2 linked regions of the Homo sapiens genome follow. The protein of the gene in region 1 interacts with the protein of each later gene in a pairwise test. Each region holds a gene or a part of one and is shown on either strand. Other genes may lie near its edges.

Region 1 (5,462 bases):
TGGCTCATCTGATGGCAAGTTCCTATCTTGAGAGGACTATGAAATTAAAACCAATACAAGTGCCACAAATAACATACAACATTGTAAATCAGCACAATTTGTAGCTGGGTGAATGGAAGAAATAGTTCTATTCATCACTTCCTCATTTTCCCTAAATCTACAATCTCCAGATGTCACTACTGAATTAACAGCCAACAATTCCACAACATTACCTGGGAGACACTGGCCCTTTTTCTTCCTCTTCCTCATCATCACTTTCATTTTCTGTAAATAAATTCAGAGAAGCAGGTCACATTAAGCAATTCATACTTCACATATGAACAAATCACTGTCCAGTCATAGCACAAGGACATAACTATTCTCAGTGCAAGAATAAGGATTCTGACAGGAATATTCTAGGGTGTCCTAGATTAACTTTGGTGAGAATTAGATGACCCTGCTTTCCAGACCCACAGGCCAAAATCTCCCTCTACGTGTAGACCATAATGCCATATTCCCTGCCTGAGTCAAAGTTAAACAAAATTTTTTCCCCAAAAAAATCTCCAAAAATTGGTCAAACAATTTTCTAAGAGTGTTGCTGCGATACGGACTTATATCACCAGGTAACATGGACATTAAATGTTTAGAGGCATCTATACATGAAACACGACTGATAGATAAATTTTAACAACTCTTGCTTTAAAAAGAATCTGTGATTTGGGAGGCCAAGACAGGTGAATCATTTGAGGTCATGAGTTCAGGACTACCCTGGCCAATATGGGGAAACCCTGTCTCTACTAAAAATACAAAAATTAGCCAGATGTGATGTTGTGCACCTGTGGTCCCAGCAACTCAGGAGGCTGAGGCAGGAGAATCACTTGAATCTGGGAGGCAGAGGTTGCACCAAGCCAAGATGGTGCCACTGCACTCCAGCCTGGGTGACAGAGCAAGACTCCATTGCAAAAAAAAAAAAAAAAAAAAAAAAATCCACGATGCTACAAAGAAACATTGGATCAGCCATTGCATTGACAGGGTGGAGAACCAGGGTCCAGCCTTGCTTTATGGAAATATATCAGCAAAGTAAAGAAGAAAAGTTTCCGTCCTGATTTCAGGGTGACTGTGCAGCTAAGCAAGCTGACTTAAAGGAGATCCAGATGAAAGCTGAGAGCAGTGAAGCCTGGGGAACAATATTTCCAAATACAAAGGCAAGGCTGCCAGCTTCCTTAAACAGGCATAGAAACTCCATGGACATTGTTCAGGGACAGATGACTTAATCACAGATGACAAGAGATACTGAATCGAAGATAGGAGGCCTGACAGATACTGCCTGTGCACCTCCTGCACTCAGGTGACTATGAGATTGTCACACTTGCCTGGGGTTGAGTAACTTGATACTGGGGACTGGCAGACAAAGTCATGACATTAGCTGAGAAGGACAAAAAAACTCCCTGATATCTGTTTAGAAACCCATCACAGTTTTTTATTCAAATGAATTTGTGTTTATAGAGCCTGTCTTCAGAGTTTATCTTTCTCAGCCTAGAGAGAGGTATGAGACACAAGGAAAACAGAGGCTACCTGGAATAATGTGTACAGCATCCTCCCATTCAACATGAGAGGATGAGCCAATGAGAGTTGAGTCGACTTTGTCTTCCTCAAATGTGATTTTGGTTTTCCTATGTGGCTGGTTGGAGTCATAAGGGCCATGGCTATTTGAATAAGTGATGGCACATTCCTCCAGTGAGTCCTCAGGGACTTCCTTTTCTTCAGCCTTCTGCATCTCCCTGATGAGCCAGGTGGGACAGAGATGACAGAAGATTAAACACAGAGGGATTGGACCCCAGGGAGTCCTAGCTGGTTTTGACAGGCGGCATTAAGAGAGTGGTCCCAGAAAGCAAAATGGAGGTTCCCATTAAGAGGGAACATGCAATCCTGTTCTCTCTGCAACAGAGCATGGCTGCCATGGGAACCAGAGAGGAAGAGAGCAGCTGCTGTTCATTGCACTGGACAGATAGGAGCTGAGGAGGATGAAGACTCAGCTATCCCTGTAAGGTGCAGACATGACACTCAGCACACATAGAGAAACATGACAGCTACCGCACCCTGTGTCTAAGCTGGATTATATTTCACATACTGTGGCCAAGCGAATGCGGGTTTTTGGCCCATCATAGATGCCAGAGAGGGTGTGCCTCCTAGATATTCCTCATATGTTACCATCCATTAATTGTTCCTGAGTATTCAGTGTTACCTGGGGGCAGACGATTTCTGCACTTTCTCAGCCACCTCAACTTGAACATCTTCATCGTCATCGTTGTCATTTTCTGTAAATACAGAAGTGTTCGTTCAGATATTTCCCACTTCACAGTCTGCAAGCACAGTCAGCCCAATGTGCAACAGAGACATGAACATCTAGGCATGGGTCACCGTTCAACTGAAAACTCTCATGTTTTATCTTTAACAGAATGCCCTGCCATGGTTTCCTGATCCATCAGGCAATGCATTTCTGATCTGGAGGGCCACCATCAAGATGTGGCCAAATATTGAAAAGACCTTTTGCTTCCCATATCACTGGAGGCTTGTGCAGCCTCTCTCTGGACGTTGGCAGCTGTCTCCCCCATCCTGCCAGATCTGATTCCCAGGCACAGGCTTGGTGTCCTGTCACGGTTTGCATTTCAAACCTCATTCTTTCTCTTAGGAGAGGACAAACTTGTCCCACAGTCCTCTATGCGTCATGAGACTGCACAGGCCCTCCATGTGGCTTCTGCTGTGTTATTCAGGGACATTCTATCCATGGGGAGTGCTCCAGTCTGAAGCACTTCCTACCACCAAATGCCCCCACATCAAGTGCCTTCTCCAACACCACATGGAGAGGGGCTTCATCTCATTTTGAAAAGCATTCGTAAGTGTTCCCATATTTGGATGCTTCAGACCCTTGCAAGAGACAATTTGTCTGCCTTTGCAGATGGAGAGAGAGAAACTCTGAAAAGATAAATCACTCACTGACACTTACTAAGAACACTGCCAAAAATACAGCCTGGGAACCTTCATTCTTAGCCCAGAGCTCTTTTCACTCCAACAAGCGCCCTTCCATCACAGCCTCCTTCCTGTCCTTTAAAACTAGATAGATGCTGCCTCTTGCTCCAAAGACCACCTTCCATCAAGGAAGGAGGGACACTTGCAATACTGTGACCTCCAAACCCATGGGTTTCCCATCTCTGTTCTTACCCAGGAAGTCCTGATCATGTCATGGCCACATAGGTGTAGTAGAAAAAAACCCCACTGATATAACTGTCATTGTGAAAGTATGGAGGTCTGGAGCCTCTCATAAGCCTGGGGTTTTGGGTCATCAGGGCCTATGGCCACCTTACCTGGGCTGAGCTTTTGGACAAGGTGCTGTGCCAGTCTACACCCCTCAGCCAGCTGTTCTTGGAGGTCCTGCCCCTGGGACTTGTCCGGCTCATCCGGAGTGAGGAGGGCCTGGAGATGCTCATTCAATGAGCGGGAGGCATCTCTCCCTTCCCGTAACTTCTCCCTTAACTGGGTCAGCTCTCGTTCCTGAGAGTGAAACAGGACTTTATATTGCCTAAGGTGAGACGGTAGAGAAAATTTAAGAGTAGAAAGGGTTGAGTGATCCGTTCAAATATTGCAACAGAGACTTCTGAGACAATGTCCTCAAGGAGACCTCCAAGCAGAAGGTCAGCACATGTTGAAAGGAATGACTGTGGCCAAGAGGAAGAATAGAAAATGGTCTACAGGCTTTCCCTCTATCAGAGAGGGCTCCTGCAAGATCCTCGATGATGTTCCATTCATCTTTCTCTTCTGTAAACAAAAGTAGGTGTCTTCCTAATTCCGTTTCAAAAAGACATCCTTTCAGTTCCTCACTCTGGCCATGGACATTTCCATGTGAAAATACACATAGTGCATCTTGCGGCCACTAAATACAAAGCCATGTACAGAAATGAGGCCAGGTGCAGATGGGGCGAATTGAAAAGATGAAAGAAGAAAAGAAGGACAGGGTCAAGAAGGCAACATTGATTGAGTGAAAGAATGAGAAGACGCAGTCAGTCAGGAGGTGATTCTCACTAAGGGTAAGTGGGGTGGTGATAGCACACCATTTTGATTATACTGAATGCTGCTGGGTGGTTCCCACTCCTTTGGTGAATTTTGTGTTATGTAAATTTCACCTCAACAATTACTTGTTTGAAAAAGAGAAAACAAGGCTCTAAGAAACAACTGCAACACAGAACTTATTATTATCCTTGTTCACTGATAAATATTTGTGTGTCATGAGCCTGTCATGGCAATTTCTGCCCTTCCCCTGGCCCAGCTTCGTTCTTATTTCTCCCCGCCGAGCTGCTGTACTTCAGAGATCTACACACCTACCCGCCTGCCCTCCCCCCACGGGGTCCCCTCACCTGAGCTCCTCAGCTTGCTTCAGCTGCTCTGCAAGCTTCTCCTCCTTGAACTGTCGCTCATTCCTCAGCATAAATTTTATGAGGTCTTTACACTCTTCATACTCTGAGAAAAGACAGACACGCCTGCCTCAGTGGAAGGCTGGACATGCTGCTGTGGTCACTGCCTACAGGGCAGGAGCCAGGTCCATCCCAAGGACAAAACTCTCCCCAGTACCAGGGTCTAGACAGGGATTTCCACATCTTTATTCTTCAGTCTCCTGACTTTCTGGCATCTGATCCTCCAAAATTTAAAGACGAAGAAAGAGAAACTCAAGGGCGCATCAAGGAAGTTGACAAGATGATTCAACCACAACGAAGTGGAGTCAGAACTCACAGCCCCTGAGGTCTGACTCTGAATGCGGGGCCACTTTCCCAAGTCTTGCAGCCTCTCCTCTAAAACACTGCACTGGGGCATGAAGTAGTGATTTCTTGTACAGTCGGGAAGGCCCCTAGGACTATGGGACTGATGGTTTCCCTTTTACTGGGTATTTCAAGGACAAATATGTCAAGGACTTTAAAAATATTTCATTTTTAAATCAATATTCAGATATGGTTTTAAGAATCATATCTGAAGCATAAAGTGTGAGATATAAGACAATAAGGCCATGAAGGAAATATGCCCAAATACTTTATTAGTATGAGAGGCAGCATTAAGATTTAGATTAGTTGTGTTAATTTAGAAACAGCATTAGTTTGTGTTAATTTAGAAACATCAGAATGAAGAACTAATAGATAGTGTTTCCACTGTGCCAATTAATGTTCAAGGAGATTGACAGGAAATACCTCATGTAATTCATTGCAGCAATTTACAGAGGTAGGTATTATTGTAGTACCCTCTGAACAGATGAGGAAACTGAGGGACAGACAAGACAAGCAACTTGGATGGAGCCCAGGAGACAGGCTGAGGGTCCCTGCTTTGCACACTGCACTGCTGCTTCCACACATTCTCCGGTGTGATCTTTCCTCTTTAGGAACAAGAGCCTGTGCACCAGGAAGCAGGACTTCACTCTCACCAAGGTACTCTCTGCTTTT
Region 2 (4,480 bases), on another chromosome or scaffold:
GGTGCGGGCGCTGGGGGCTCCGGATACAGCCTCTGCTGCGCCGCCTGTGGTGCCTGGTCTCCCGGCCCTAGCGCCCGCCAAACCTGGTGGTCCTGGGCGGCCCCGAGACCCCAACACATGCTTCTTCGAGGGGCAGCAGCGCCCCCACGGGGCTCGCTGGGCGCCCAACTACGACCCGCTCTGCTCACTCTGCACCTGCCAGGTAGGAGGTCCTGGAAGGGCACACTGGGTCCTGGGATCTGGAGCAAGGGGCCTGGACACTCCCGTCAATGCCTCTGCTCCTCTCTGCAGAGACGAACGGTGATCTGTGACCCGGTGGTGTGCCCACCGCCCAGCTGCCCACACCCGGTGCAGGCTCCCGACCAGTGCTGCCCTGTTTGCCCTGGTGAGTTCCCCGCAGGGGAGTGGAGGGAGGAGTTGGCCCAGTGCGGACAGGTCCTTTGGGGAGGGAATGAGGGTGGTCACTCTCTGCTTTCACCATTTCTTTGGCTCCACAGAGAAACAAGATGTCAGAGACTTGCCAGGGCTGCCAAGGAGCCGGGACCCAGGAGAGGGTGAGCTGGAAGGGTGCGTGCAGGGTGGGAGGCCCCAGAGGAGCCATTAGGTTGAACCAGGAGGGGGACAAGAAGGGGAGAGTATATAGGGGGTGGCCTGAGGGGCACAGATTCCAAGTGATGCCTGACAGGACTCATTAGTGTTACTGGCCCCCAGGTGGGCCCTTGGCTTAGGCTCGTGTGGGGGTGGCCTGAGGCTCAAGCCTTGGTTGTGGGCCCAGCTGATGAGCTCATACTAATGGCTGCTGGGCCCTGTTCCCCACCAGGCTGCTATTTTGATGGTGACCGGAGCTGGCGGGCAGCGGGTACGCGGTGGCACCCCGTTGTGCCCCCCTTTGGCTTAATTAAGTGTGCTGTCTGCACCTGCAAGGTATGGCCACCCAATCTTCTCTGGTGCCATAACCCAGCGGGGTCTGCAGAGATGGGGAGGGGCTGCCAGGTGAGGAAGGCCCGTCCTTGGTGAGGAGGGCTCAAGAATCAAAACGATATGAGAAAAGGCCCTTGCGCTCTGAGAGTCGGCTTCCTGTGGGAAAATGAACAGGGCTGACCTGGGTGTGGATTCTGGCTCTGCCAGCTAACTAGTGCCAGTGACCCTAGGCACCTTCTGTCCCTGAGCCTCACTTTCCTCTCCTGTAAGCAGATATGATGGCACCTACCTTGCAGGGTTCTGATGAGGAGCTGAGTTTAGGTCTATAAAGCCAGTCCGGGCCTCTGAGTAAAAGGCCACAGAGAGACTGCATTTGAGGTGTGGAATAGGAGAGGGAGTGGGCAGGAGGCTTATGTGCCCCCTGCCTGACACTCCTTGCTCAATGGATCCCTACAGGGGGGCACTGGAGAGGTGCACTGTGAGAAGGTGCAGTGTCCCCGGCTGGCCTGTGCCCAGCCTGTGCGTGTCAACCCCACCGACTGCTGCAAACAGTGTCCAGGTGAGAGAGGTGGCTGAGCACTGAGGCCTCACCTTTGGGTTGAGGCAGGCTTTGTCCTGGGTGAGGGGAAGGGTGCTCAGTTAATTGAGCATTATACTGAGCACTGCTCTGTGCCTAGCCTGGAGCCAGGACTCTAAATGCAGTGGAAAGAATGTGATATACTAGTGGGGTATGATGGGTTCTGGTTCCTGCTCCATCCATCCGTCCATCCATCCATCCATCCATCCATCCATCCATCCATCCATCCATCCGTCCATTCATCTATCTATCCACCCATACAACCATCCACCCATTGATGCATCCATCCATGCATCCATCCATCCCTCCATCCATCCACCCATCCACCCATTGATGCATCCATCCATCCATCCATCCATCCATCCATCCATCCATCCATCCGTCCCTTCATCCATCCATTCATCTGCCCACCCACCCATCCAAATTTATCACCTACTAAGTGCCAGAAACTGCAACGTGCTGGGTATTCAAAGAGAATACTCATAAAACCTTGTTGGTCCTCCTGGGCTGATCCTTTCTCTTTCCCTCTCAACAGTGGGGTCGGGGGCCCACCCCCAGCTGGGGGACCCCATGCAGGCTGATGGGCCCCGGGGCTGCCGTTTTGCTGGGCAGTGGTTCCCAGAGAGTCAGAGCTGGCACCCCTCAGTGCCCCCTTTTGGAGAGATGAGCTGTATCACCTGCAGATGTGGGGTAAGTGGGGAGCAGAGGCTTGTGTGAGGTGGGTACTGGGAGCCTGGTCTGGAGTAGGGAGACCTTCCCAGGGAGGTCCCTGAAGAAGCTGAAGGTCACTGTGTCCCAGTGCCTCTGGGGGACACTCAGTGTCTGCTCTGTCTTGTACCAGGCAGGGGTGCCTCACTGTGAGCGGGATGACTGTTCACTGCCACTGTCCTGTGGCTCGGGGAAGGAGAGTCGATGCTGTTCCCGCTGCACGGCCCACCGGCGGCGTAAGTGAGGGAGTCCAGGGTCAGCAGCTGTGAGTGGAGGGCTCACCTGCCTGTGGGACTCCTGATCAGGGAAGGGAGCACTCACTGTGTGCAGGAACAGTGCAGCCTGCCTCACAAGTGCCATTCCAATCCACCCTCACAGCAACCTGGTGGAATTGTTATTTATGACCTTTTCTTTACAAATGAGATTTCTGAAGCTCAGAGAAATTAAGCAACGAGATGAAGGTCACCCAGCTGTGTGCACTGACCTGTTTAGAAAATACTGGCCTTTCTGGGACCAAGGCAGGGATGCTTTGCCCTGCCCTCTATGCCTCTCTGTGCCTCTCCACTCCCTCTCCCCTCCTCCAACATTCCCTCCCTTCTGTCTCCAGCAGCCCCAGAGACCAGAACTGATCCAGAGCTGGAGAAAGAAGCCGAAGGCTCTTAGGGAGCAGCCAGAGGGCCAAGTGACCAAGAGGATGGGGCCTGAGCTGGGGAAGGGGTGGCATCGAGGACCTTCTTGCATTCTCCTGTGGGAAGCCCAGTGCCTTTGCTCCTCTGTCCTGCCTCTACTCCCACCCCCACTACCTCTGGGAACCACAGCTCCACAAGGGGGAGAGGCAGCTGGGCCAGACCGAGGTCACAGCCACTCCAAGTCCTGCCCTGCCACCCTCGGCCTCTGTCCTGGAAGCCCCACCCCTTTCCTCCTGTACATAATGTCACTGGCTTGTTGGGATTTTTAATTTATCTTCACTCAGCACCAAGGGCCCCCGACACTCCACTCCTGCTGCCCCTGAGCTGAGCAGAGTCATTATTGGAGAGTTTTGTATTTATTAAAACATTTCTTTTTCAGTCTTTGGGCATGAGGTTGGCTCTTTGTGGCCAGGAACCTGAGTGGGGCCTGGTGGAGAAGGGGCAGAGAGTAGGAGGTGAGAGAGAGGAGCTCTGACACTTGGGGAGCTGAAAGAGACCTGGAGAGGCAGAGGATAGCGTGGCAGTTGGCTGGCATGCCTGGGTTCCGCAGAGGGGCTGGGGATGGTTCTTGAGATGGTCTAGAGACTCAAGAATTTAGGGAAGTAGAAGCAGGATTTTGACTCAAGTTTAGTTTCCCACATCGCTGGCCTGTTTGCTGACTTCATGTTTGAAGTTGCTCCAGAGAGAGAATCAAAGGTGTCACCAGCCCCTCTCTCCCTCCTTCCCTTCCCTTCCCTTTCTTTCCCTCCCCTCCCCTCCCCTCCCCTCCCCTCCCCTCCCCTCCCCTTCCCTTCACTCTCCCTTCCCTCTCCCTTCCCTTCCCTTCTCCTTCGTTCACAGCAATGGGGTCTTGCTATGTTGCCCAGGCTGGTCTTGAACTCCTGGCCTCAAGTGATCCTCCTGCCTTGGCCTTCCAAAGTGTTGGGATTACAGGCATGAGCCACCACACCCAGCCCAGCCTCTACCTTCTTTGTCTAAAGTGAGGCAAACACTTTTCTGTTTTTTTCCTGGAAACTCGTGTTCTGGACCAGTTCTGGGGCAAACTGGGGTCAGAGTGGATTGGAATCAGCTCTGATCCAGCTTTTGGCTGTGCTTACCTTGAGACCAAATCATGTAGAGAATAAGACAAGACCCTCCTGCCCTGTTACCCTCTTCTCTCTCCCCTCCCTCATTCCTACCATCAAGACCCAGGCATTTTGACAAGCTCTAGGAAATGAGGGTATCAGAACAGAAATCTAACAAATGTATGTAGCTGCAGATCCATCTTTCATATAAACAATGTGGAGTCAAATGAATCTGGGATTTTATGATCTGGTAGGGCAGGGGAAAGGGAAATCATAGCTTGCTTATGGAGTGTTAGGCATGCTGTATGTGGTTAAGAAGTTATTGTCTTAGCCCATTGAAGCATCGAGTTCCAGTTCTGCTGTTAACTAGCTGAGTTATTTAACTTTCACAAACCCCCATTTCCCTTTTATAAAACACATGATATCCCCCTCACAGGATTCAATCAGAACACGTGCATTACACAAGCTCAGGGCCTGGCACGTATTCGCTGCAAAAGGCACTCTCCCCGAGGTGGGATTTG

Evidence for each region. Proteins that work in one complex are often made in the same cells at the same time.
Region 2: the proteins of NBPF19 (region 1) and CHRD interact in a two-hybrid assay, tested with the Homo sapiens proteins (one large-scale study listed by BioGRID).

Annotation. Positions count from the first base shown.
Region 1 is NC_000001.11:149,476,977-149,482,438, reverse strand, and holds part of NBPF19 (NBPF family member NBPF19), read right to left. Parts: intron 4,495-5,462; coding exon 4,392-4,494; intron 3,560-4,391; coding exon 3,345-3,559; intron 2,298-3,344; coding exon 2,225-2,297; intron 1,761-2,224; coding exon 1,555-1,760; intron 265-1,554; coding exon 213-264; intron 1-212.
Region 2 is NC_000003.12:184,386,554-184,391,033, forward strand, and holds the end of CHRD (chordin isoform 1 precursor), read left to right. Parts: coding exon 1-202; intron 203-291; coding exon 292-385; intron 386-497; coding exon 498-554; intron 555-820; coding exon 821-924; intron 925-1,377; coding exon 1,378-1,480; intron 1,481-2,033; coding exon 2,034-2,188; intron 2,189-2,339; coding exon 2,340-2,442; intron 2,443-2,813; coding exon 2,814-2,869; 3' UTR 2,870-3,276; downstream 3,277-4,480. UniProt on the Homo sapiens protein: Dorsalizing factor. Key developmental protein that dorsalizes early vertebrate embryonic tissues by binding to ventralizing TGF-beta family bone morphogenetic proteins (BMPs) and sequestering them in latent complexes.